Linked DNA regions of Homo sapiens: regions 1 and 2 are each linked to region 3. Evidence: fine-mapped expression QTL. A gene starts in region 3. Each other region holds a variant in brackets. All regions are shown on one strand. Distances are from middle to middle. Region 1 overlaps CLSTN1 (calsyntenin 1). Region 2 overlaps PIK3CD (phosphatidylinositol-4,5-bisphosphate 3-kinase catalytic subunit delta). Region 3 holds the start of CLSTN1 (calsyntenin 1).

Region 1 (8,179 bases), 53 kb after region 3:
CAAAAAATCATAAAGAAGTGAAAATACCTTTCTTTGTAACTTTTCAGTGATAGGCTGAAAACAGAGATAGTCTTCCCGTAGCCATCAGTCTTTTTTTTTCCCTTGATTTCTAGAGCAATTTATTTCTTATTTCTGGTTGCTTCATGGATTCAGATAATTTCAACATTACTTATTCTGGAATTTAGAATTTCATCTCATTTGGGTCTTGATACCAAATTTTGCGACAGAACTGTGAGCACTGTCTTCAAGCCTAATGAGAGTTTTATTATTTTAATAGCAGGTGTGTGTCTTCAAAAGTAGTGGAGTTGAAAATAATATTTCTAACCTTGTCTATTTTTTTCTCTTGTTTTAAACACAGTTAACAAGCACAAGCCCTGGCTGGAGCCCACCTACCACGGCATAGTCACAGAGAACGACAACACCGTGCTCCTCGACCCCCCACTGATCGCGCTGGATAAAGATGCGCCTCTGCGATTTGCAGGTAGGAACGGGGCTTTCATTGACTCTTGATGAATCGGGCCTGGTCAGGAAGCATTCTGCACATCCCATTTGGGTAATGCTGAGCGTTTCTGAAAATGTCTCCATAGCTGAGGGTTATTTGTAGCGTCCTTTGTAGCATGTTTTTTTTTCCTTTTAATAGTTGGGGTAGCTGACAAAAAGGCCTGTTCTTATAGTTGAAAAACAAACTGTTTAATTTAATTGCATAATTTTTTTCTTTATCTTAATGTAGCCAGATAACTCCTAGACCAGTGCATCCCTGGCTCTAGGGTGCACACGGAGTACCTGAGGAATGTAGAGACAGCGGGTCTGGGAGGACCTGAGATTCTGCCTTTCTCACCTGCTCCTAGGTACTGCTGGTGTTGCTGGTCCTCAAGTGGCATGGAGCCGGAGAATCACAGCGCCAGGGGTTCCTTGCATTACCTAGATTTCAATGACCTGAGAAGACTTACTTGAAGAAGTTGAGCGGTCTTTATAGAGGAATGCTTTTGGCATAGATTTTACCTTCAGTGAATTTTAAAGACATGAGATTGTAGCCTCAGTCTTTATAGAGACAAACCTGTAGCATTGCTTTGGAGATTTTCATACTGTAATAACCGTGTACATTGCTAACACTTAATAGCATTTTCCAAGTCAGAGCTGTTCTGGCTTCACGTTGGGTCCTTAACTGGTAGAGAATGGGCTGCGCCACCTTTTTTCTGCCTCAGAGTTGGAGTTGACATTGTAAAGTTAATTTTTAAGAGTTGTTTTCGCATATTTTTCCAGATCAGATCTTCTCCTGCACGGCTGGGCACAGTGACATGCCTGTAATCTCAGCACTGTGGGAGGCTGAGGCAGGAGGATTGCTTGAGTCCAGGAGGTGGAGGCTGCAGTGAGCCTTGATTGCACCACTGCACTCCAGCCTGGGCAACAGAGCAAGACCCCATCTCAAAAAACAAAACAAACAAAAACTTCTCGTATTAAAGAGTGTTCTGGCCGGGCACAGTGGCTCATGCCTGTGCCAGCACTCTGGGAGGCCGAGGCGGGCGGGTCACAAGGTCAGGAGATCGAGACCATCCTGGCTAACACGGTGAAACCCCGTCTCTACTAAAAAAAAAAAAAAAAAAAAAAAAAAGCCGGGTGTGGTGGTGGGCGCCTGTAGTCCTAGGTACTCCGGAGGCAGAGGCAGGAGAATGGCGTGAACCCAGGAGGCGGAGCTTGCAGTGAGCCGAGATCGCGCCACTGCACTCCAGCCTGGGCGACAGAGTGAGACTCTGTCTCAGAAAAAAAAAAAAAAGTGTTCTATTTGTCTAGGGACAAATAAGAAAAATTGGATGAATTTGTATGAAACATATGTTAATTTTACTATAGTAAGTTGAAGGAAATAAACATGAGTTTGTTTCTGAAGAACTATTTGAAAAATAAATTTGTACTTCATTCTGTTTAGGCGCCACATCACATTTTCAGCACAGTCACCCGTGAACCAGCTTGTGCTGTAAAGATAGAGCCTCCCAAGTTGTTTTGTGTGTTTATTAATTTTCAGAGAGAATTCTGATGAAAAGGACAGTAGAGGCAGTACCCCATGCCGTGAACACACACACAGCATTTGTCCAGTTGCCAGGGTGATTATTTTTGCTTTTTCCCCCACATTTTTTTTTTCTCCTGAAACAGTCTTGCTCTGTCACCCAGGCTGGAGTGCAGTGGTGCAATCTCAGCTCACTGCAACCTCTGCCTCCCGGGTTCAAGCAGTTCTCCTGCCTCAGCCTCCTGAGTAGCTGGGATTACAGGTGCCTGCCACCACGCCCAGCTAATTTTTGTATTTTTAGTAGAGATGGGGTTTCACCATATTGGCCAGGCTGGTCTTGAACTCCTGACCTTGTGATCCACCCGCCTTGGCCTCCCAAAGTGCTGGGATTACAGGCTTAAGCCACCATGCCCGTCCTAATTTTTGTATTTTTAGTAGAGACGAGGTTTCACCATGTTGTTCAGGCTGGTCTCGAACTCCTGGCCTCAGGTGATCCACCTGCCTTGGCCTTGCAAAGTGCTAGTGGATAGATCATTTTAACAGAATTATTTAGTTTATGTTTTTGAGCAGTTTTATATACATTACTGATGTTTTACGCATTTCAAGAAGTGATTGCAGTCCAGGCTTGTGTATTTGCTCCCTCAGGTCCTCCTTTGCCTTTTGAAGTATCAGCAGTCCTGTTGTTCGTGCAGTGTGATCTTACTATGTTGTTAATAATTGATGCACTATTTTATTTTATTTTGTTTTGTTTTATTTTTGAGACGGTGTCTCAGTTTGTCGCCCAGGCTGGAGTCCAGTGGTGCAATTTCGGCTCACTGCAACCTCCGCCTCCCAGATTCAAGCAATTTTCCTGCCTCAGCCTCCCATTAGCTGGGATTACAGGTGCCCGCCACCATGCCCTGCTAATTTTTGTATTTTTATTAGAAACAGGGTTTCACCGTGTTGGCCAGGCTGGTCTTGAACTCCTGACCTCAGGTGATGCGCCTGCCTTGGCCTCCCGAAGTGCTGGGATTATAGGCGTGAGCCACCACACCCAGCCAATAATGCATGCACTTATAAAGCATGCATAGCAATGTCCCAGGCACTACTCTAAGTACTGTACAAATATAAATTTGTATTTAATCCCCAATAACCATAAGATAATAAATACGCTTTTCTGCATTAAAGGCAGGAAGCGGAGGCACAGAATAGTTAAGCTATTGCTCTGGGCGTGTAGCTGGTCGGGGGGTGCAGAGGCAGGGCTCCAGCCCAGGCGGGACAGCTGCCTGCTACGATGACGTAGCTACATCTTTAACTGCACGAAGTTCACAAGGAAGTAGGAAATGAAATGTACGCCGAGTGTTAACTTTGAAAGAAAAAGTCTTATCAATGAAATATTTTTTTCTTACTGTATTTAATTTTATTGTGTATTTCTCAAACTTAAGATATTCTAGATGAAATAATACTTATACAAGTTTATTTTTTAGAGATTCTCAGGTTTTTTTTACTGATGTACAAAAATTATATGTTGTGATATGTATTTTAACTGTATAGAAAAGCAATTTAAATCCAATTATAGTGGTAACTTGGTTGTATTTGCCATAGTGGATAGATAAGTCAATATTTTCCTTTTGGATATTTTCATGGGGGAAGCACAGTTACTCATATAATATTTTTTCTTTCTTTTTTCTTTTTTGGAGATAATTCATATGCCACAAAAATCACCCTTTTTTTTTTTTTTTGAGACGGAGTCTCACTCTGTCGCCCAGGCTGGGGTGCAGTGGCGCGATCTCGGCTCACTGCAAGCTCTGCCTCCCGGGTTCACGCCATTCTCCTGCCTCAGCCTCCCGATTAGCTGGGACTACAGGAGTCCGCCACCGCGCCCGGCTAATTTTTTGTATTTTTAGTAGAGATGGGGTTTCACCGTGGTCTCAATCTCCTGACCTCGTGATCTGCCTGCCTCGGCTTCCCAAAATGCTGGGATTATAGGCGTGAGCCACCGCGCCCTGCCAAAAAATCACCCTTTTAAAGTGTACAGCTCATTGAGTTTTAGAATGTTCCAAAAACCATGCACCTGCCAACCACTGTCTAACTCCAGAACATTTTCATCACCCCAAAAAGGAACCCTTGCACCAAGTGGCACTCATCCCTCAGTCTCCTTCACT[C/T]CCAAGCCCTGGCTACCACTACAGATTTCTCTATTCTGGATAATCATGTAAATGCACTGTACGGCTTTTTGTGATGGGCGTCTCCCAGCATGGTGATTTCACAGTTTACCTGTGTTAGGTGCCTAGCAGCCCCTCATTCCTTTTTTTGTTGCTGGATATTATTTCATTCTATGAGTAGATCACATTTTGTTTCTCTGTTCATCCACTGATGGACATTTGAGTTGCTTCTACTTTTTGGCTATTATGGGTCATGCTGCTGTGAACATTCCTGTACAGGTCTTTGTGTGGACATAGGTTTTCAGTCCTTTAGTATACACACAGGAGTGCAACTGATCCCCTTGACTGAAGCGTGGGGTCCTCTGCTGGAGGAGTGGGCAGCTGCATGGGGGGGAGGGAGCACCTGACCTGCAGCCGTATCCCTCCTTACCTCCCTCCCTCCTTCCTTCCCTCCCTTCCTCCCTCCCTCTCTCCCTCTCATTTCCTTCCTCTCTCTCTCCTTCCCTCCTTCGCTTCCTCCCTCTGTCCTTTCCTTCCTCTCTCCCTCCCTCTCCCTCCCTCCCTTTTCCCCTTTCTCCCTCTCTCCCTCATTCCCTCCTTCTGTTCCCCCCTCCCTCACTCCTTCCATCCCTTCTTCCCTCCTTCCCCCTTTTCCTCCCTCCCTCCCTCCCTCTTTCCCTTTCTCCTTTACTTTCTCCCTGTGTTGCTTCCTCCCTCCCTCCCTCTTCTGTTGCTTTGGTGCCACCCAACACAGAACCCCACCCCCGTGGTGCCACCCAACACAGAACCCCGCCCCCATAGTGCCACCTAACACAGAACCCCGCCCCCATGGTGTCACCCAACACAGAACCCCGCCCCCATGATGCCACCCAACACAACCCCACCCCCATGGTGCCACCCAGCACAGAACCCCACCCCCATGGTGCCACCTAACAGAACCCCGCCCCCATGATACCACCCAACACAGAACCCTGCCCCCATGGTGTCACCCAACACAGAACCCCGCCCCCATGGTGCCACCCAGCACAGAACCCCGCCCCCATGGTGCCACCCAGCACAGAACCCCGCCCCCATGGTGCCACCCAACACAGATCGCCAACCCCATGGTGCCACCCAGCACAGAACCCCACCCCCATTGTGCCGCTCAACACAGAACCCCGCCCCCCTGGTGCCGCCCAGCACAGAACCCCGCCCCCCGGTGCCGCCCAACACAGAATCCCGCCCCCATGGTGCCGCCCAACACAGAATCCCGCCCCCATGGTGCCGCCCAACATAGAACTCCGCCCCCATGGTGCCGCCCAGCACAGAACCCCGCCCCCATGATCTTGCCCAACATAGAACCCCATCCCTATGGTGCTACCGAACACAGAACCCCGCCCCCATGGTGCCGTCCAGGACAACCCCGCCCCCATGGTGCCACCCAGCACAGAACAGGACCCTATGAGACTGAGCAAGGGAGGTCAGGAACAGAGACCCTAGAGCCGAGGGACCAGTGAGTGAATCGTAGCTCTGCTACTTATTGGCTGTGTGGCCTTAGGCAAATTACTTACCCTTTCTGTGCCTCCATTTCATCATTTGTAAAAGGATAAGATGTCACAGACCTCATTAATGTCACAGACCTCATTGGTTTGGGGGAATGTTAGCTTCTTTATTCATACGTGTGAAGAGCTTTAAACAGTGGGTGGTACAGTAATTACCACCTACAGTATTTGCCGCTGCTGTTATTACTACTAATAGAATCTTTTAAAAATATTTTTTCACTTAACATTTTGTGAGAAATATTTTTTCATCTTTCTACAAAAGTCGTTATAGTGTTGCATTTTCTTACAGACTTTCTTAAGTATTTTTTGGATAAGACAGAGGCTAGACCTGGAGCCTTATTTTCATCTTAGATTGATTTGGGTGATGACATTGAGTTTAATTTCGCACCATGTTGAGGAGGAGGGTGGTGATGGTGGTGGCATCTAACGTTTATTGAGTGCCTGCAGTGTGGCAGAGGTTGCTCTGAGGGCCCGGTGTGGGTTACTTTCTCCGATTCTTTTCAGCAGGTTTTTTTTTTTTTTTTGAGATGGAGTCTTGCTCTGTTGCCCAGGCTGGAGTGCAGTGGTGCTATCTCGGCTCACTGCAACCTCCGCCTCCTGGGTTCAAGCAATTCTCCTGCCTCAGCCTCCCGAGTAGCTGGGACTACAAGTGCATGCCACCATGCCTGGCTAATTTTTTGTAATTTTTATTAGAGACGGGGTTTTACCGTGTTCCCCAGGCTGGTTACGAACTCCTGAGCTCAGGCAGTCTGCCCGCCTCGGCCTCCCAAAATGCTGGGATTACAGGCGTGAGCCACTGCGCCCAGCCTCTCTTCTCCAATCTTACGCAGTAGACATGCCCACTGTCCCTGTTCTCCAGGTGAGGAACCAGGCTCAGCGTGTCTGCCAGCTGCGTGACAGCAGGAGAAGCTACTTTGTTTTCCATTTTATCCCCAAAACCTCCGTCAGTGCCTGGAACACAGTCACTCCATAGATATTTGTAGAGGGAGGAGATGAGTTTACCCAGGATCACACAGCTCATAAGTGACAGAGCCGCCTCTGGGCCCAGCTCACTGTGTGAACATTCCAGTTCATAGTGTGATCCCACTACAAGGCATGTGTGTGTGGGTAGCCACAGGAGTTCACTTGTTAGAGCTCTGAAATGAATGCACATGCAATGCTGGGAGCTTAGTCATTGAAGCTCCTTGTAAGTCATCACTAATCAGACATTCACAATGAAGATCCAGTCTCGCCCGGATTGTTTCCTTGGGGTGAAATTCTGATACAGAGTCTTGGTATTTGTCAAGTGTTTTAGGAAATTTAAATGATTCAGTTTCTTGTTCTGCGCCTTCTCTTTAATCTGCTGAAAGCCTGAGTAGTCATGGGTCAGAAAACAATTTTTGTATTTTATTATTTATCTATTTATTTTTGAGACAGGGTCTCGCTCTGTCACCCAGGCTGGAGTGCAGTGGCGCGATCTCGGCTCACTGCAACCTCTGCCTTCCGGGTTCAAGCAATTCTCATGCCTCAGCCTCTCGAGTAGCTGGGATCACAGGCGTGCACCACCACGAGCCAGCTAATGTTTTGTATTTATAATAGAGACGGGGTTTCACCATGTTGGCCAGGCTGGTCTCGAACTCCTGGCCTCAAGTGATCCTCCGCCTTGGCCTCCTAAAGTGCTGGGATTACAGGCGTGAGCCACCGCGCCCGGCCTATTTTGTTTACATTTTATATATTTCGTGGAGAGTTACCAGCTTGAGCCTCATGTGTGGGCCACAGGGTTGGGGCCTTGAAGATGATGCATTCTGTTCTTGTCAGAAGCCGTGCCTCCTCTTCTTGTTTCCTCTTCAGAGCTCCTCCTTCTAGGAGGTGGTGGTGTTCTAGCAATCTCTTTCCTGCTTTTCCAGATTAAGTATGGATGTTTTACAAGATTGGTTGAACCATAATGATACAAATAGAATCCAAAAGAAGTTTCAGGGCAAGAATGGGAACTTAGTTTTCATTGATAGTCAGTTAGAGCCCACCGAGGAGCCCTGTGATACTCTTGTCTGTATTCTTTGTTATGAATGTGATTCACATGCCCTGAGGGTGGCCAGTGGGGTTAACTGCTGCATTTCACTGCCCAGTTTTGCTTTTTTAGCACATGTAACTGAGCTGACCTTGTGCTTGCAGCAGTGAATTGGTTGACCTGCATGAAATTGCCTTTTTTTTTTGAGACAGAGTCTCGCTGTGTCGCCCAGGCTGGAGTGCAGTGGCGCGATCTTGGCTCACTGCAACCTCCCGGGTTCAAGCGATTCTCCTGCCTCAGCCTCCTGAGTAGCTGGGATTACAGGCGCCCGCCGCCACCACGCCCGGCTAATTTTTGTATTTTTAGTAGAGGGAGGGTTCCGCTTTGTTGGCCAGGCTGGCCGCAAACTGCTGACCTCAGGTGATCCACCTGCCTCAGTCTCCCAGAGTGCTGGGATTACAGGTGGAGCAACGGCGCCTGGCCTCCATTTTTTTTTTTCTTTTTTTGA
Region 2 (8,164 bases), 93 kb after region 3:
GAGCAGCTCTGAACTGGGCATGACCTTCACAGGTAAGGGGAGCGCTGCAGCCACGCAGGTGGGCCAGGCTGCAAGAGGGGACTTTGAGAGCTCTTGGCTGGCTGCTGCCTGCCATCTGAGAATGTTGAGTTATCTTAGAGGGAGATGGGGAAGGAGCACGTTCGCTGGGATCATTGTTGGCTGCACGCATACTCCTGTCTCCTGGACAGGTACCGGATGTGTAGCCACTACTCTCTAAAGGGGGAGGGTTGAGGCGTGGGATGACACGTCCCCCACAGAGGGAAGAATGCCCCTGTGCACATTGCATTTATTCCCATGGCTAGAAAGCCAACTTGTGTGACCCCTTGGCCTAGCTAACCTGGGTGTCTAATTGAGCCTGCCTGTGCTGACGGCTGCAGCCCTGCCCATGCTCCTGCCCTAAGCCACCCGGCAATCTTCCCCCTTTCAACCCCTGCAGGCGTGGACACCATGGCCAGCTACGAGGAGGTTTTGCACCTGCTGCGCTATCGGAACTGGCATGCCAGGTCCTTGCTTGACCGGAAGTTTAAGCTCATCTGCTCAGAGCTGAATGGCCGCTACATCAGCAACGAATTTAAGGTGGAGGTGAGTACAAGGCTCCCACTGAGCAGGGCCAATAGCAGCAGTGAGTGAGGGCGCTGATTTGCAGCCCTAATATTCACAAACGCCAACCTCAGAGCATTCATGATGGCAGCTATACAGGCTCATTCTAGGGGGTCGCCTTTCCAGCCTGGGGCCTGCTGCAGGTTACACCTGGGCTTGTTGGAGTGACAAGTTGTGTTTGGGGTGAGCTGGGGTGGGGGGTGCTCCCCTTTCCCTGGCTGCCTCAGCCTGAGTTGGAGCCTAAGGAACTTTGCAGGGAGGTGACAAAGAGCAAGTGGCAGTTAATGCCTCTGGGGCTTCTTGAGATTTCCCATGAGAGAAACAGGAGGATGTGGTTTTATTTATTTATTTATTTTTAGAGACGAGGTCTCACTATGTTGCCCAGGCTGGTCTTGTCCCCCCAGGTTCAAGCAATCCACTTGCCTTGGCCTCCAAAAGTGCTAGGATTACAGGCGTGAGCCACTGTGCCCAGCCAAAGACACTGTTTTAGAAAGAGCAGCATCCAGGGAACCAAAAGTTCTCTGCATCTGTGCCAGGTCACTGGCCCTCCTGTGAATGAAGTCGAGTCCTCGGCCCAGGTTGAGAGGGGCTCACGCAGGGACCCGCACGGGCAGGACCAGTGCTGCTGAGGCTGGCGCTGGTGACTCACAGGCCACACAGGCTAGAGGGTAGCTCCTCCTGCTCTGAGGTCGTCTACAGACCTATCCAGCAGCTGCTTCATCGCTCAGGCTCTCTGTGGCCTGGAGAAAATTGACCCAAAGTTACTCTTAGCAATGGAATATCACCATGAACTCAAGAGCAGAATGCTAAATTCGGTGCCTGTTTTGTTTGAGTCAAAGGGTAAGAGATATGAAAGGAAATCCATGGCAGTGATTGGTGCTGTCTTTCACACGGCTGTGATTTGAGGAAAAAGGTCTACGCCAGTGCTTCCCAAACGACCCATGGGGAAGGACCATCGGCTTCTTTTTCTGCTCTTGTTTTGGGCATAATCTTTTATAAAATGCAATAAAAATGGATTGCAGCCAGGTGCGTGGTGCTTGCCTGTAGTCCCAGCTACTTGAGAGGCTGAGGTGGGAGGATTACTTGAGCAGGGAAGTTCCAGGCTGCAGTGAGCCGTGATCATGCTTGTGAATAGCTACTGCGCTCCAGCCCGGGCAACACAGCAAGACCCAGTCTCAACAAATACTAATAAGTAGAAAAGTGATACATTTCTGGAATGTGTGAGAATATTAGATTGTTATAGCAGTTTCTAAGTGCTTATTACTCTTTTTTGTTTGGTTTTTGTTTCTTTTTCTTTGTTTTTGTTTTTTAAGTGCTTACTCTTGATTTTTTTTTCTGTCCTTTTCCCGTAGCTCCGTTTGCCCCCAGCTGCGGTCCAGGAGCCACTCTGAGTGGCACTGGTCATGCCAGCTGCGGGACTCCACTGTCACCTCTTGGACAGGCTCAGGATGCCTGTCTCCAGCGATCCTCTCTTTCTCTGCTATAGGTGAATGTAATCCACACGGCCAACCCCATGGAACACGCCAACCACATGGCTGCCCAGCCACAGTTCGTGCACCCGGAACACCGCTCCTTTGTTGACCTGTCAGGCCACAACCTGGCCAACCCCCACCCGTTCGCAGGTAGGACATGGGGAGGGAGACCAAGCGGAGATGCTCCATGCCGTCCGCCCTGCCCCCACCCCACCGTGGGCACAGCCTCCTGCTCAGCATGACCGCCGGTCTTTCCCTGTCCCAATTATTCCCCATCACACACAAGGAAACTAAAGCCCTCGAAGAGGGCAGATGATGTCACCCGCAGCCATGGAGCAGGACGTGGCCGAGCCAGGTTGGAGGCCCATGGCGAGCTTTTCCTGGTATTTCCTCCTGGCCTGTGGGTTCAGCTGAAGCGTGCTGTCCAGCCCGTTTTGACCAGGCACAGCCGAGGAGGTCAAGGGCACAGTGGCCTTCTGGGCCGAGTGACCTCGCATCCCGCCCCCTCATTCTCCCACAGTCGTCCCCAGCACTGCGACAGTTGTGATCGTGGTGTGCGTCAGCTTCCTGGTGTTCATGATTATCCTGGGGGTATTTCGGATCCGGGCCGCACATCGGCGGACCATGCGGGATCAGGACACCGGGAAGGAGAACGAGATGGACTGGGACGACTCTGCCCTGACCATCACCGTCAACCCCATGGAGGTAGGAGTGGGCGGGCGACCTCCAGGACTGAGAGGCAGCACAGGCCAGGGCCTCCGAGAAGCCGGTACGGCGCGGCTCCTTCAGGTTCACATGCTTTCCATCGCGTCATCTGCTCAGCAAGCCTGGGGCTTAGGTGTCTTCGTGGGTAAACCGAGGCTGAGAGAGACCTTATTCAAGGCCGTTCTGCCTTAAGTGTAGAGAAGAGCCATGCCAGGGCTTGGCGCTCTTGGGTCATGGTAATCCTGAGAGAGTTCTCTGGTGGGGCAGCTGAGGTGCTGTCCCAAGCTGCTTTGTATGTGGGTGACTCCGTGGGTGCTGACTGGAGCTTTGTTTTCCCTTCACTTCTAATATAACTTCCGGTGCCGTCCTGGCTGCTCTGTCGCTGGGGAGGGAGACGCTGGGGCAAGTTCTCCTTCCTCTGTGGCTGTCGAGAGGAGAATGCCAGGTGACGGGGCTGTGGGCAGGGCCGGACTCATGTGGCCGTCACTTCTCCTTGCCAGACCTATGAGGACCAGCACAGCAGTGAGGAGGAGGAGGAAGAGGAAGAGGAAGAGGAAAGCGAGGACGGCGAAGAAGAGGATGACATCACCAGCGCCGAGTCGGAGAGCAGCGAGGAGGAGGAGGGGGAGCAGGGCGACCCCCAGAACGCAACCCGGCAGCAGCAGCTGGAGTGGGATGACTCCACCCTCAGCTACTGACCCGTGCCCCCGGCCACCTCGGTTTCTGCTTTCGAAGACTCTGCTGCCATCCGTTCTCCCAGTCCCAAGGGTCCACGATGTACAAAGTCATTTCGGCCAGTAGGTGTGCAGACCCCTCCCCGCCACGATCGTCGCTGTGCTTGGTGTGTAGGACCCTAGGCTCCCCGCCCACCCTCTGCCTGGTCGCGCTCTTCAGTCCCACGAGGAGCTGACACGTCCTCTCTGGCCGCCATCCGGCTCGCACAGGGGCCTCCCAGCGCCTCAGGCCCCGCGTTTGTGTCTGGAGTCTCCCCCCGGGGAGAGGACACTGGCCCCTCGCACTCCAGAAAAGCCATGCCAGCTGGGCTCGTTGACAAAGGGTAAAACATGCTCACTCCCACCCGGTAATCATTTTTTTCTTTTTTTAAAAAAAGTTTTTATTTTTTCCAAACTAGTGCATGTATAAATAATGGCAGGATGGGGGGTACTGTGTAGATGATTAACTGACTTTTTAATATTTTGTAAATAAATCGGATTCCTTGTGTCCTTTGTGCTAGTGTAACCCGGGACTGGAATGTAAAGTGAAGTTCGGAGCTCTGAGCACGGGCTCTTCCCGCCGGGTCCTCCCTCCCCAGACCCCAGAGGGAGAGGCCCACCCCGCCCAGCCCCGCCCCAGCCCCTGCTCAGGTCTGAGTATGGCTGGGAGTCGGGGGCCACAGGCCTCTAGCTGTGCTGCTCAAGAGACTGGATCAGGGTAGCTACAAGTGGCCGGGCCTTGCCTTTGGGATTCTACCTGTTCCTAATTTGGTGTGGGGTGCGGGGTCCCTGGCCCCTTTTCCACACTCCTCCTCCGACAGCAGCTCCCTGGGCAGTGGCCTGGTCTCACCGTGTGCAGCCTTGTGGTTTATGCTTAAATGTACATTTTCCTGCTGGTAAAAGGAGAAACTGAGAGGTGTCCTGCAGACCGGCTGACCACTCCTTTTGGAGACGGCAGGAGGCCTGAGCGATCCGTACTCAGAACGTCCAGGAGAGACGCATGGCCCGAAGTCAAAGTGCTGGAATTTTCCAAAACAGCCTGTTCTCTCCTCTCTCCTCCCCAGAGCACCCCCTGCCATCAGGGGGGTTGAAATCCCTCTCCCCCAGGAGCCCTGCTGCTTTGCTTGGTGGTAGGGCAGGAGAGCAAACAAACAGTCATGGTCTAAAACCCACATAGCACTTTGCTCTTAGTTACATGTAAAATTTTAGATTTCTAAAACAGGTGGGCAATCATTTTGAATACTGTTCTGTGACCCTGACTGCTAGTTCTGAGGACACTGGTGGCTGTGCTATGTGTGGCCATCCTCCATGTCCCGTCCCTGTAGCTGCTCTGTTTAGACAGCGGACAGACGCTCACGCCCAGGGGATGTCCTCACGCTGTCGCCGCGCGGTTTCCCTTCGCAGATGTGTATACTCATGATAGGTCAGAAAGTGTATCC[G/A]CTACAATAAAGTTCTGGTTCTAACTAACTCCAGCCGGAGCGGGGTTTGTCTTCTCTCCTGTTTTGGTTTTAAACCTACACTCCCTTGTTTCTTTTTGAGCCGAGAACATAAAAGAACATAAAAAGGCTTTTTCTTTCTTTTCATCTGCCTTTACTTCTCATTTCAAGGTTTCACAGAGTGCTGGTCTCAACCCACATCAGTGATACTTAACTAACTTGCCTTCCCCAGACAGAAACATGAAATGACTTAAAAAAATAGAAAATATTCTTCTCGCCAGGCACACAAGACTGTACACCCAAAACCAGAAACGCTGTGGCTTTGCAAAGTGTGCTCCCACACCCGCGCACACAGGCGCACTTAAATAAATAACGCGCACGCACGGCTTTCCCCATTTCGAAACAGGCAGACGGTCTAGTGAGTTTCAGCACTTGCTGGGAACAGGCGTGTGGCCAGGGAGGTGCCCCGCGGGTGGCAATGACTACTGACGGACCCCTGGTGAATCAGAACAGAGCTGGCACCTGAGCCGCTGAGCGGGCGGCTACTTCTGGCTCTGTTGAGTTTTGGAAGACCTTTGAGAAATCAACAGCATCACCGGGCAGGTCCTGAGTCCATGGCCTGATATGTTAGGATCACCTGTGGGCTGCTAAAAGCCCACAGTCCTAGCCCCATCTGCAGAGTTAGTTGGCTTCTGAAGGCTGGGAGAAGCCCTAGAACCTGCATTTCTAAAGCTGCTCAAATCCAGGCCTTTGGAGGCTTAAGACTAAGCCTGCACCATTTCAAACTAAGTATAGTCAGAGAGAAAGATCCCAGCACGCCCCCTCGTTCTCACACTTCTGGTACCTCAGCACTCTCACAGCAGGTTCCCAAAGGTGATGGTTCTGGAAGAGTTCTGGCCTCATCCTTTTGTTAAAACCTGCTTTCAGAGGTGGCTTAGACAATGGCAGAGTGGGCCGGGCGCGGTGGCTCATGCCTGTAATCCCAGCACTTTGGGAGGCTCAGGCGGGTGGATCACCTGAGGTCAGGAGTTCGAGACCAGCCCAGCCAACATGGTGAAACCCCCGTCTCTACTAAAATACAAAAATTAGCTGGGTACGGTGGTGCACACCTGTAATCCCAGCTACTCAGGAGGCTGAGGCAGAAGAATCACTTGAACCTGGGAGGCGGAGGTTACAGTGAGCCAAGATTGCACCACTGCACTCCAGCCTGGGCAACAGAGGAAGACCCCATCTCAAAAAAAAAAAAAAGATTTTTGAGATAATGGCAGAGTATTCGCTTCTGACCTGCTTTTGCCTTCATGCGTGACCGGGGTGAGCTACATGAGGCCCAGATCTCTTTAACACGTCCTGAGGACCAGCGTAGATTCTCCTTTATGGGGCTGGGCCTGATCTCCCCAGCCGTAGAGGTGTGGTGAGTCATCTATTATTTTCTTACCTGCAAACAAAATCACTTTACAGTAGAGAAAGATGAGGGAATTCTCGTACCCAAGACCCACTTGAAAAGTGGAGAGCAAGCATCCCTGAATCTAGAGGGTACCCCGGCTGCCTCGGGGAGCTGCCAGAACTCAGTCTAGGGAGGATACACAGGGTGGGTCGCACGAGGATCAAGGCATCCTGTCGGACAGTAGGCACCAGGTGACCGCCAGGCGCCAGGACCCAGGCAGTCTGGCGGGAGGCCTGGGAAGAAGGTTCCCTCGGGAGGAGAACAGTCTTTGCTGGGCCCAGATCCACCAGCTGGAAGACTTGGGGTGACAATCCTCAGCCGAGAGCCAGGTGCAGCCTCGGGGGGCCCAGCACCGCCGCTGCATGAAGGAGGCGTTTCCGTTTATGGCTGTTTAGCTCCTTAAACTATTTCAAGTCATAAATAAATAACCAGTGTAAACAAAAGGCAGCCATGTCGGTTCTTTCCCGTTAGGTGCAGTTCAGGCTCTTCAGCCCCTTTAGGACCAATGTGCTTGGTCCCCACGACCCGCAGCCGCCTCCTCTTGGGCCCAGGGCTGGGAGGAGCCACTACTGCCTGTTGTCTTTGGACACGTTGTGGGCCAGCCAGTTCACTTTGGTTTTCCAGCTCTCACGGAGGGCTTCGTTAAACTTCACTCGGAAGTGCTTCAGTGCCTCCTCCTCTGTTTTCCCCAGTGCCAGGGAGTCCTGCAAACAAATCACAGCGGTGTCCACGTTAAGGGGGCCCGGACCTTGCTCTGGGATGCGTCCCTCTCTGGGGACTTCAGAGTCACTGAATGAAATGGTTAGTAGAGAGCTCCCAGCATCTCAGGAAAAGCTCTCTATTCCGCTCCCACCCTCAAATGAAGGTGCCAAAGACATCTTGGCCCCAGAGCCCCCAGTTCCCAAGTGACCTCGCCTCCCCTACTGGAGAAATGGCTCTGGGAGGAGCATGGGAGCAGCTGCTTTTGCAGGGACTGGTCACCAGAGGGAAGGTCCTGGCAAGCATGTGTGGCCCCAGCAGCCTCACCGCCCCATCCCACCTTCTCACATGGAGAGGACACAAGAAGGAAAAAAAATACATATGTATCTGTATATATACATTTTTTTGAGACAGTCTCACTCTGTCGCCCAGGCTGGAGTGCAGGGGCATGATCTCGGCTCACTGCAACCTCCGCCTCCCAGGTTCAAGTGATTCTTCTGCCTCAGCCTCCCAAGTAGCTGGGACTACAGGCAGCCGCCACCACACCTGGCTAATTTTTTGTATTTTTTAGTAGAGACGGGGTTTCACCGTGTTAGCCAGGATGGTCTCGATCTCCTGACCTCATGATTCACCCGCCTTGGCCTCCCAAAGTGCTGGGTTTACAGGCCTGAGCCATCGTGCCCGGCCAATTTTTTCTTTTTGAGACAGAGTCTTGCTCTGTCACCCGAGCTGGAGTGCAGTGGCGCGATCTAGGCTTACTGCAGCCTCAGTCTCTCGTGTTCAAGTGATTCTTCTGCCTCAGCCTCATGAGTAGCTGGGATTACAGGCATGTGCCACCATGCCTGGCTGATTTTTTGTATTTTAAGTAGAGATGTGGTTTCACCATGTTGGCCAGGCTGGTCTCAAACTCCTGACCTCAGGTGATCCACCTGCCTCAGCCTCCCAAAGTGCTGGGATTACGGAGGCATGAGCCACCATGCCCAGCCTGGAAAAATATCTTTTATTTATGTTTATTTTTATTTTATTATTATTTTTTGAGACGGAGTTTTGCCTTTGTTGCCCAGGCTAGAGTGC
Region 3 (8,179 bases):
TCAGAAGGTGCAGCATCTTGGAAAATTTTCTTGTGTGCGCTTCATCTACTGTCTCAGATAGAGTCACTATACATTCAAAAGTACAGATCTTCCTCCACTAGCTAACAAAGTCACCTCCTTATCCTCAAGTCTATGTTCCCAGTTCAGGATGGGCCTGGGTGATGCCTCATTCCCCATGGCTCCAGGGCCTCTGATGCTGCCACTTTGTCAGTGGCTGGCTCAGCTCAGGCAAGGCCCCTCTCCCAGCTAACCATAGCATAAGCCTGAATCGATCCCTGTCTCAGGGCCATTTGGAGGATTAACTAATCCATCATGGGGGAAACCTTTGAAATGTGCCAATGTGGCTGAGGCTATTGTCAGGCAGAGCAGAAACTGAGTTTACTGGTTCCCCCGTTTCCGAGACTTTCAAGCTGGACTCACTCTCATGTGGGTGAAATCCCAGCAGGTGCAGGTTGCACTGAGCTCACCAAGCCGTCTATCTGCCCCACCTGACGCTGGATCTTTTTGACCTATCTCTGTTTCTTTAAGGGACAGTAAGGGTGAGAAGATAAAGGGATCAGGATTCCAGACACTGAAGAGCTTTTGTTTGTGTTTTTAATAGAACTGAACACATTAAATTTCCCCTTTTGGCATCATCAGTCTATGGACTGAAAACATAGTTCTGAGATTATACCTTTCCGATTTTATGTTTTGCAAATCTCGAAGGTCCCTGGAAATCTACAGGGTACATCTTTTTTCACCCTCTGAGATGTGAGCTCCATAATAATAAAACCTAACTCAGCAATTCATTGAGTTCATCACTATTTATTGAGTACCTACTCTGATCGCTGGTATACTAGAAGCACAGAAGCCTTCTTCTTGAAGGGAAAAAGAAACTCATGTATCTAGAAACACCAGGCTCTATGTGGCACTTTCATTTATTTGCCACATAAAGCCTGGTATTTCTAGATCTATGTGGCATCATTTCATTTAATTCTCACAACTCTAAGAAGTACATATTGTTCCATTTCGCAGGTGAGGAGATTCTGAAAGTTCCATAACCTGGCCAAGGTCGTTTGCATTTGCAGAGGCCAGCACTGAAGTCCAGTCCCGTCTGACTAGACCATCTGGGTCCTTCCCACTAGAATACAGTGGGGAGGAGAAAAGGACACTGATGGATTAGTCAGTCGACAGCACAGGCAGCAGATTATAAAGCTGAACTGTTTGGTTAGAGCAGCTCGGGGCTGGAGAGGGAGGGCTGGCAGGAGGACTTCCTGAAGGAGACAGCCCAGAAGCTCCTTGTAAGGACCTGAGGCTTGGGTATGGGTGGAGGAGGAAGTGTGATGTTGGCCCTGGGAGGGGAATGAATAAGAAGAGACAGTGGCAGACAGCATGCCCTGAGGTCAGCTGGGTGGAGGATGGGAAGCCCAGCAGAGATGTCTGGACCTGACGAGGTGGCAGCAGGGAGGCACTCACTGAGTTTATAACTCCAGGAGGGGCAGAAGCAATGGCAACACCCGTCACCAGGGGAGAGGATGACTCAAAGCCTTGGCTGGAAGGAGTGGTGGGTGTGGCTTGGAGCCTGCCCGGGCCAGGCAGGTGCTTTGGGAAGGGTCCAGCCAAGGAGAGTCCGGTCTTCCTCCACGCAGGGGAGGGGGAGCAGGGGAAGGAAGGAGAGACATTAACAAGATGGAATCTGTAGGCTTTGGTGCAGGACGCTTACGGGGAACACGGCTCAGGGAGTTGGATTCCAGATTGCTTTTGAAGCCTTCCCCAGGTCACATCACACCGCTGTTCCCAGCCGTTCCAGGTCTTCCTGTTGACTGTAGGATCAAGTCCATTCCCCCAATCTGACCTCAGTCTACGTTTTTGGGCTCTTTGCCCACTAGTCTCCTAAATAAGTCCTCTGCGCCCCACAAACCAGTCTCCACCCAGCCTCCAGTGCTGCCAGCCTCCTCCACCCCCACCTGGAGCAGTGACATTCATGGATAGCTCCTCCAGCGGTCTCGAAAAATGAACATTTTAGGGTTCCACTTTTTGCTGTTGGTGTCCCCCTAATGCGAACATCCTGTCCTTGAGGGCTGATTCTTTTTACAATAGTTGTCCCAACGGGGGAAGTCATTTCACCTTTCTGACTTAGTTTCCTTATCTGCAAAATGGAGCCAGTAGTGTCTCATAGGGTACAGTGCCTGCACACACGCCCATCCACGGCTGTTCCAGGCCTTTCCTCCACTGCGGGGGGGTGCCAGGGGTCCAGAGGCGAGGAGGAGGGGGCCGCTGGACGCTGGGAAATTGGGAGGACCCCAAGATCCCTGTAGGGATCCACGGTAGAGGGGGAGGGCTTCTCTGTCCTCTCTATCCATTCGGACCTCCGCATTTCTAAGAACCAGCATCGCACCATGTCACTGAGAAAGAGCGCGCACACCAGCCGCCTTTTGAAAGTCACAAATAGATTCCTTCAGTGAATTCAGGACAGACTCCCCGGGGGCAGGTCCCGGGGCGGGAGCCGGTGTGGGTAGTGCTGCGCGGCCCTTAACTGTTTACCAGGCGCGTTTCGCTGACCTCGTCTCCTGGACCCCCTTTCGTGACCCCTCTCAACACCTCTACTGGGGAGACGAGGACCCCGAGGTTCTGGGGGGCGACGCGACCTGCCCGAAGTGACAAGGGTCCTGGGCCGCACTGCTCCGCCGGGGTCTGCGCTCCTCGGCGGAGCGGGTGGGAAGGATGAGTCCTCGGGGTGGAGAAGGAGGAGCGGGTCCCCGGGTACCGCTCACCCGGCCTTAGGAGCCCGGGAGCGCGCGTAGGGACGCGGAGTTGAGGCTCTCCATCTGCGGCCAGGGAAAGGGATACAGTCCCCCGGGCCCCTCCCGGCCGCTCGGAACCCACCCCAGGCGCGTCCCCGCGGGCGCGCGCTCCAGGCGGGGCCGACGGGCTCGGAGGCGCGCGCCCGCTGCCGGGTCCGCCGCGCGCGCTCCCTCCGCTCCTCTCCCCCGCCCCTCCCGGGCCCGCGCGCTCCCAGGGTCCGCCGCGCGCGCGCCTCGCGTCGCTCCCCATCCCCGCCCCTCCCGCCGCCACCCCGCCCCCGGCCGGGTACCCTCGCCGGACCCGAGAGAGAGCGCCGCCGCCATCTTAGTTGCTGCCGCTGCCTTCAGCAAGACGCTGCTCTGAGGCGGGGAGGGCGCCGCGTCCTGAGCGCGCGGCCCAGCGTCACGGCGGCGGCGGCGGCGGCTCCTCCTTGGACCCCCGGAGCTCCCCGCGCCGCGGAGCAGCTAGCCCCAGGCCCCTAGAGCCCCGAGAGCTCCGAGAGCTCCGCTCGGCGTCCCGCGCGCCTCCCTGCCGCTCCCGCCCCGGGCTGGCGATGCTGCGCCGCCCCGCTCCCGCGCTGGCCCCGGCCGCCCGGCTGCTGCTGGCCGGGCTGCTGTGCGGCGGCGGGGTCTGGGCCGCGCGAGGTAAGCCCCGGGGCTGGGCCGGGCCGCTGGGTCGGTGCGGGATTCGGGTCCGGGTGCAGGATTCGGGTCCCGGTGCGGGGATTCGGGTCCGGGTGCGGGAGTAGGGCCGGATGCCGGGATTCGAGCCGGGATGCGGGGAGTCGGGTCCGAGCGCAGGGAGCCGGGTCAGGGCGTGGGGTTCGGGTTGGGGGTCGGGCTCGCGGAGCCGGGGCCAGGGCGCAGGAGACTGTGGGCGCGCGCTGCAGGCGTCCCGGGGAAGCCAGGCTCCGTCCCGGGCGGGGCTCCTGAGCCTGGGCTGCCCCCACTGCAGCCCATGGTGGTGGCTGCGCTGATTTGGGGGAACGTGCAGACGGGCCGAAGGGTCAGTCCGCCCTGCTCAGCGGCGCACGCAGGCTGGGGCTGCACCCCTGGGTGAGATGCTCTGTGTACGTGTGCTCAGATGTGCATCAGGCGGGGGGTGCACGCACAGTTTTGGTGTGTGCTTACATAAGAGCCCACTCCTCCGCATCCCGTTTCCAAGATCCCGATTCTGTGTTGCTGCACCGCGGACACCACGACTTCGCCCCTTTCCGCCTCCTCCCAGAGTCCTTCAGACGTTGTCTGTTTCCAGTGGAGCCGAGGCTGAAACTTAGTGCTTCCCTCCCACCTTTTCACCCAAAGGTGAAATCGCGATGAGATTTGCGACCGCGGGCTCACCCAGTGTTAGAAATCTCCGTCTCTGCTACCCCTGGTGCCTTGGTGCTGTTTTTCTGACGGTCATTTAGACCGTGGAGGGTTAGATGTTCTCTACAAAAACGAGAAACCTCTCTGGTTTTTTAGGATTGTAGGACCGAAATTATTTTATGGCTCGGTGGGAAGTAGTATTTCTTGGCTAATTTATTATTAGCTTTTAACCTTCATCCACTTAACCTTTTAAACCTTGCATGCCTCTGCTATTGACTGGTCTTGCCAACGAAAAGCTTACGCATTGCAGATACAGTATTTGCTTCTGAGTGGATCTTGAAATCGTAAACATTTTCCTTGGCCTTAGAGCAGAGTAATCTAGGTGTAGTCTGTAGAATCTACTGTAGGCTTAAATCTGTTGTTCTGATTTTTTTTTAATCAAAAGAAATTTTGGGGAGGAGGATTGATAGAAATCTAGATGAAATGGTCATATTTGAATTTAGCAAGCTTTTTAAAAATTCTTATTTTCCCTTCCCTGGCGTGACATAAGGAGAGAAGTATGGTGTTCACGAATTAAAGGGCAGAGGCGGCAAATGCATCTTTTGTTCCATGTTCCTTTCTAAACATCGAGGATGATAAACTTTGAATACTTCTTTTATTTCATTTCTAACATTCTGTTGACTCTGTCAAATTCAGATCTTAGTCACTAAGTATCTCATTGCTGGCCATTTGATTTTTAAAAGTAACATCAAGCTAAGTTTGAAATGTTCTTTCCAGATGTGGGTTGGAGGTCTGAAACTCTAATATATCCAAGAGAAATGTCAAAAGTTTTGCTTCTCTTGGGGAAAACCCACACATTTTAAAAATATGTGCTTGGATTGGGTATTTTGGGAACAGTTTAAGTATATTTAGTCAGTGATACCATTTCTTGTTAAAATTGGTGCTTTCTTAAATAGCACCTACATTTGTTAGTCATTATTTAATTGCCTTGGTTACTTAAACAGCATACATTTCAACTTTGAATATCTTCATTACCTGAGACCGACAGAAATCTTGTGTGAAAGGTGTGTTGGCTAGTTGAGTCATTTGTAATTTGCTTTCTCTAAGTTTTTCTTGGTGCAGTTACAGTAGTTCAAGATTCTTAGTCTTCGGAATAAAGACATTTTACACATCAGTTATTCGTATGCATTTTTTTCAGGTTGCAAGTTAGAAAATGTCTTGGAATTACACGAAATGCTAATAAACAATTTCATTTTGAAATATTACAAGTGAATTTCATATGTAAATTTACAGTTTGGAGACACTCTGTGGGCTCGTTTTAAGAGATCATTTCAACTAATTGAATTTTTTACGGCTGTAAGGCAGTACGACATGAACTCCTGTTCATGCTGTAGCTACCTTTAATCATTGTTAATGTTAGATTACGTACAGACTGCTGCAGAAAATGATAGATTTTCTAATATAAATTGCATCTTGACTCTTAGTTTTGTAGAGACCCTCAAATTTTATTTTAATTATAGCTGTAGTTCTCAAAAAACATTGAGTAGAGCTGGGTGCAGTGGCTTGCGCCTGTAATCCCAGCACTTTGGGAGGCCGAGGCCAGCGGATCACCTGAGGTCAGGAGTTCGAGACCAGCCTGGCCAACATGGTGAAACCCCATCTCTGCTAACTATATAAAAATTAGCTGGGTGTACTGGTGGACGCCTGTAACTCCAGCTACTTGGGAGGCTGAGGCAGGAGAATTGCTTGAACCCAGGAGGCGGAGGTTGCAGTGAGCCGAGATTGCGCCACTGCACTCCAGCCTGGGTGACAAAGCAAGACTCCATCTTAAAAACAAATTCAGTAAGCCAAAATATTAGAAGAAATATCTTTGGCATGCCCTGGACGGTCATGTCCTTCAGCTACCTGCCTTCTTCATGGAGATCGGGAAATAGAACAGTGAAGCAGAGAAAATAGAAAGCTTATATGAATATTTAAAAAATGCAACCATGTAATGCATTTCGAAGCCACTTAATACATAAAATTCACTGTTACTTTTCCATTTGCACATAGGCTTAGTGAGACCTCCCCTCACCATCCTATTTGAAATAATTTCTCTTCCTGAACCCCTAAATCCTGTTTCCCTGCAACACTTTTTCTTTTTGCATAGCACTTAGCCCATTCTAACATGCCTTGTTGTTTACTTATTGAATTGTTTATCGTCTGTTTCCCCTCAGTAGAACATATGCCCCAAGATGGAAGGGTATCTGCTTTGCATATGTTTCCCGTCACCAGCACACCAGAGGCATGCCAGTATTGTGTGATTGAATGAATGAATGGGTGGATGGATAACAGCATTTCAGTTTAGACAGCGTAGTAGCTTTGCATCCTAATTTTCACTTTACAGATAAATGCTATATACTGAAAAAAATTACATAGTGTAAAGCAAACTTAAGTTTTTTTTTTGTTTGTTTTTGTTTTTGTGACAGAGTCTCATTCTGTCACCCAGGCTGGAGTGCAATGGCGCGATCTTGTCTCACTGCAACCTCCGCCTCCCGGGTTCAAGAGATTCTTCTGCCTCAGCCTCACCAGTAGCTGGGACTACAGGCATATGCCATCACACTGGGCTCATTTTTGTATTTTTAGTAGAGACAGGGTTTCACCATGTTGGCCAGGCTGGTCTGAACTTCTGACCTCAAGTGATCCGCCTGCCTCTGCCTCCCACAGTGCTGAGATTACAGGTGTGAGCCACTGCACCCGGCCCAAACTTAAATTCTGCAGTGTCGATATGGGAATTCATTAGTGGGTAAATTTTCAAGGATCATGGGGCCAGCCTCGGTGGCTCACCCCTGTAATTCCAGCACTTTGGGAGAACTAGGCAGGCAGATTGTTTGAGCCCAGGAGTTTGAGACTAGCCTGGGCAACATGGTGAAACCTTGTCACTACAAAAATACCAAAAAAAAAAAAAAAGTTCAAGGATCAATTCTGTTGGTTGCAGTATTGGGGATATTAGATCATGAAACTCTGTCTCAGCCTTTGAAGGCTGTAGCTCTGTGGCTACCCCTGTTAGTCCCTTTAAAAATACTATAATTTTCAGCTTTTTTGGGAAGATGGTTTCTTAATTTGTTACCTCGTTTTTTCAGAAGTAACGATGTGGAAAAAAGTCGTTCGAATATAGACCTCAGTATTACCCATAGTCTAACATTTTTAATACTGAAAGTAAATAACATTTATTTCTCAAAGGAGACCTATAACTGCTGAAGAAATAATAAAATACGAACAATTTTGAATATATTCCAATTTTAGAGCATTCACTCGGTTAACTGGAACCTTCAGTTAGCTGGAATTCGTCCTTTGGCTGGATATTTCTTTTGGGAGAAAAAGCATGAAACCAAGCAGTTTTATAGGAATTATTTTTCAAAAGGAAGGTTTAGGAGGTCATAACATACATTATCTGTGCCAGTATTTGATATTCAAGCCAAAAACGCAAATAATATTTCAGTTTTAGTTATGAAGAATATGACCAAAAAATGAAATTTTTGTGGGATATAAAATATTACATTGAAAATAGAAAATGCTGTAATTTCGTAACACTAGCTGCAGGACTTAGTGAAGCTTATTAAACCAAGTCTAAATGTTTAAAATGAGGAAGCTGAGATAGGTTAAAATTTTAGAACAAAGGAAAAAAAGTACTGAGTTATTTTTATTATTGCTTTCTGAGACAGGAAAGTATGTTTTTTAATTTTTTTGGGTAGTTTTCATTTATAAGAGTTGAAACAAAATAGAGATCTGATTATCCTAAAAAACCGCCAAGAGTCTATTTCTTATGTATTCTGGTTGAGGGCTTAGATCATTAAAACTTGTTTTTTTAGTGGGTCTTAATTTGGTGTGAAGACTTGCTTGAAGGGGCCGGGTGCGGTGGCTCACACCTGTAATCCCAGCATTTTGGGAGGCCAATGTGGGTGGATCACGAGGTCAGGAGATCAAGACCATCCTGGCTAACACGGTGAAACCCCATCTGTCTCTACTAAAAAAAAATACAAAAAATTAGCCAGGCGTGGTGGCAGGTGCCTGTAGTCCCAGCTATTCGGGAGGCTGAGGCAGGAGAA

The links. PIP is the estimated chance that this variant, and not a neighbour inherited with it, causes the effect.
Region 1: its variant is fine-mapped to the expression of CLSTN1 in whole blood (INTERVAL, PIP above 0.99).
Region 2: its variant is fine-mapped to the expression of CLSTN1 in whole blood (TOPMed, PIP above 0.99).

What each region holds. Positions count from the first base shown.
Region 1 is chr1:9,765,574-9,773,752 of GRCh38, reverse strand. It overlaps CLSTN1 (calsyntenin 1), which reads left to right. Exons shown (of 19, transcript NM_001009566.3): 2 at 359-481. Among named protein-coding and RNA genes, the nearest start is that of CLSTN1, 54 kb to the left of the region's middle. RefSeq lists a silencer at 5,536-5,736. The variant C/T (reference allele first, on the strand shown) is at 4,147.
Region 2 is chr1:9,725,840-9,734,003 of GRCh38, reverse strand. It overlaps PIK3CD (phosphatidylinositol-4,5-bisphosphate 3-kinase catalytic subunit delta), which reads right to left. Exons shown (of 24, transcript NM_005026.5): 24 at 4,890-7,095. The coding sequence ends at 6,958. It overlaps CLSTN1 (calsyntenin 1), which reads left to right. Exons shown (of 19, transcript NM_001009566.3): 15 at 1-32; 16 at 458-603; 17 at 2,108-2,243; 18 at 2,614-2,798; 19 at 3,299-5,078. The coding sequence ends at 3,496. Among named protein-coding and RNA genes, the nearest start is that of PIK3CD-AS2, 42 kb to the right of the region's middle. The variant G/A (reference allele first, on the strand shown) is at 4,951.
Region 3 is chr1:9,818,892-9,827,070 of GRCh38, reverse strand. It overlaps CLSTN1 (calsyntenin 1), which reads left to right and starts at 3,106. Exons shown (of 19, transcript NM_001009566.3): 1 at 3,106-3,428. The coding sequence starts at 3,338. RefSeq lists enhancers at 1,396-1,455, 2,516-3,232 and silencers at 2,845-2,904, 2,925-2,974, 3,145-3,294, 3,305-3,384.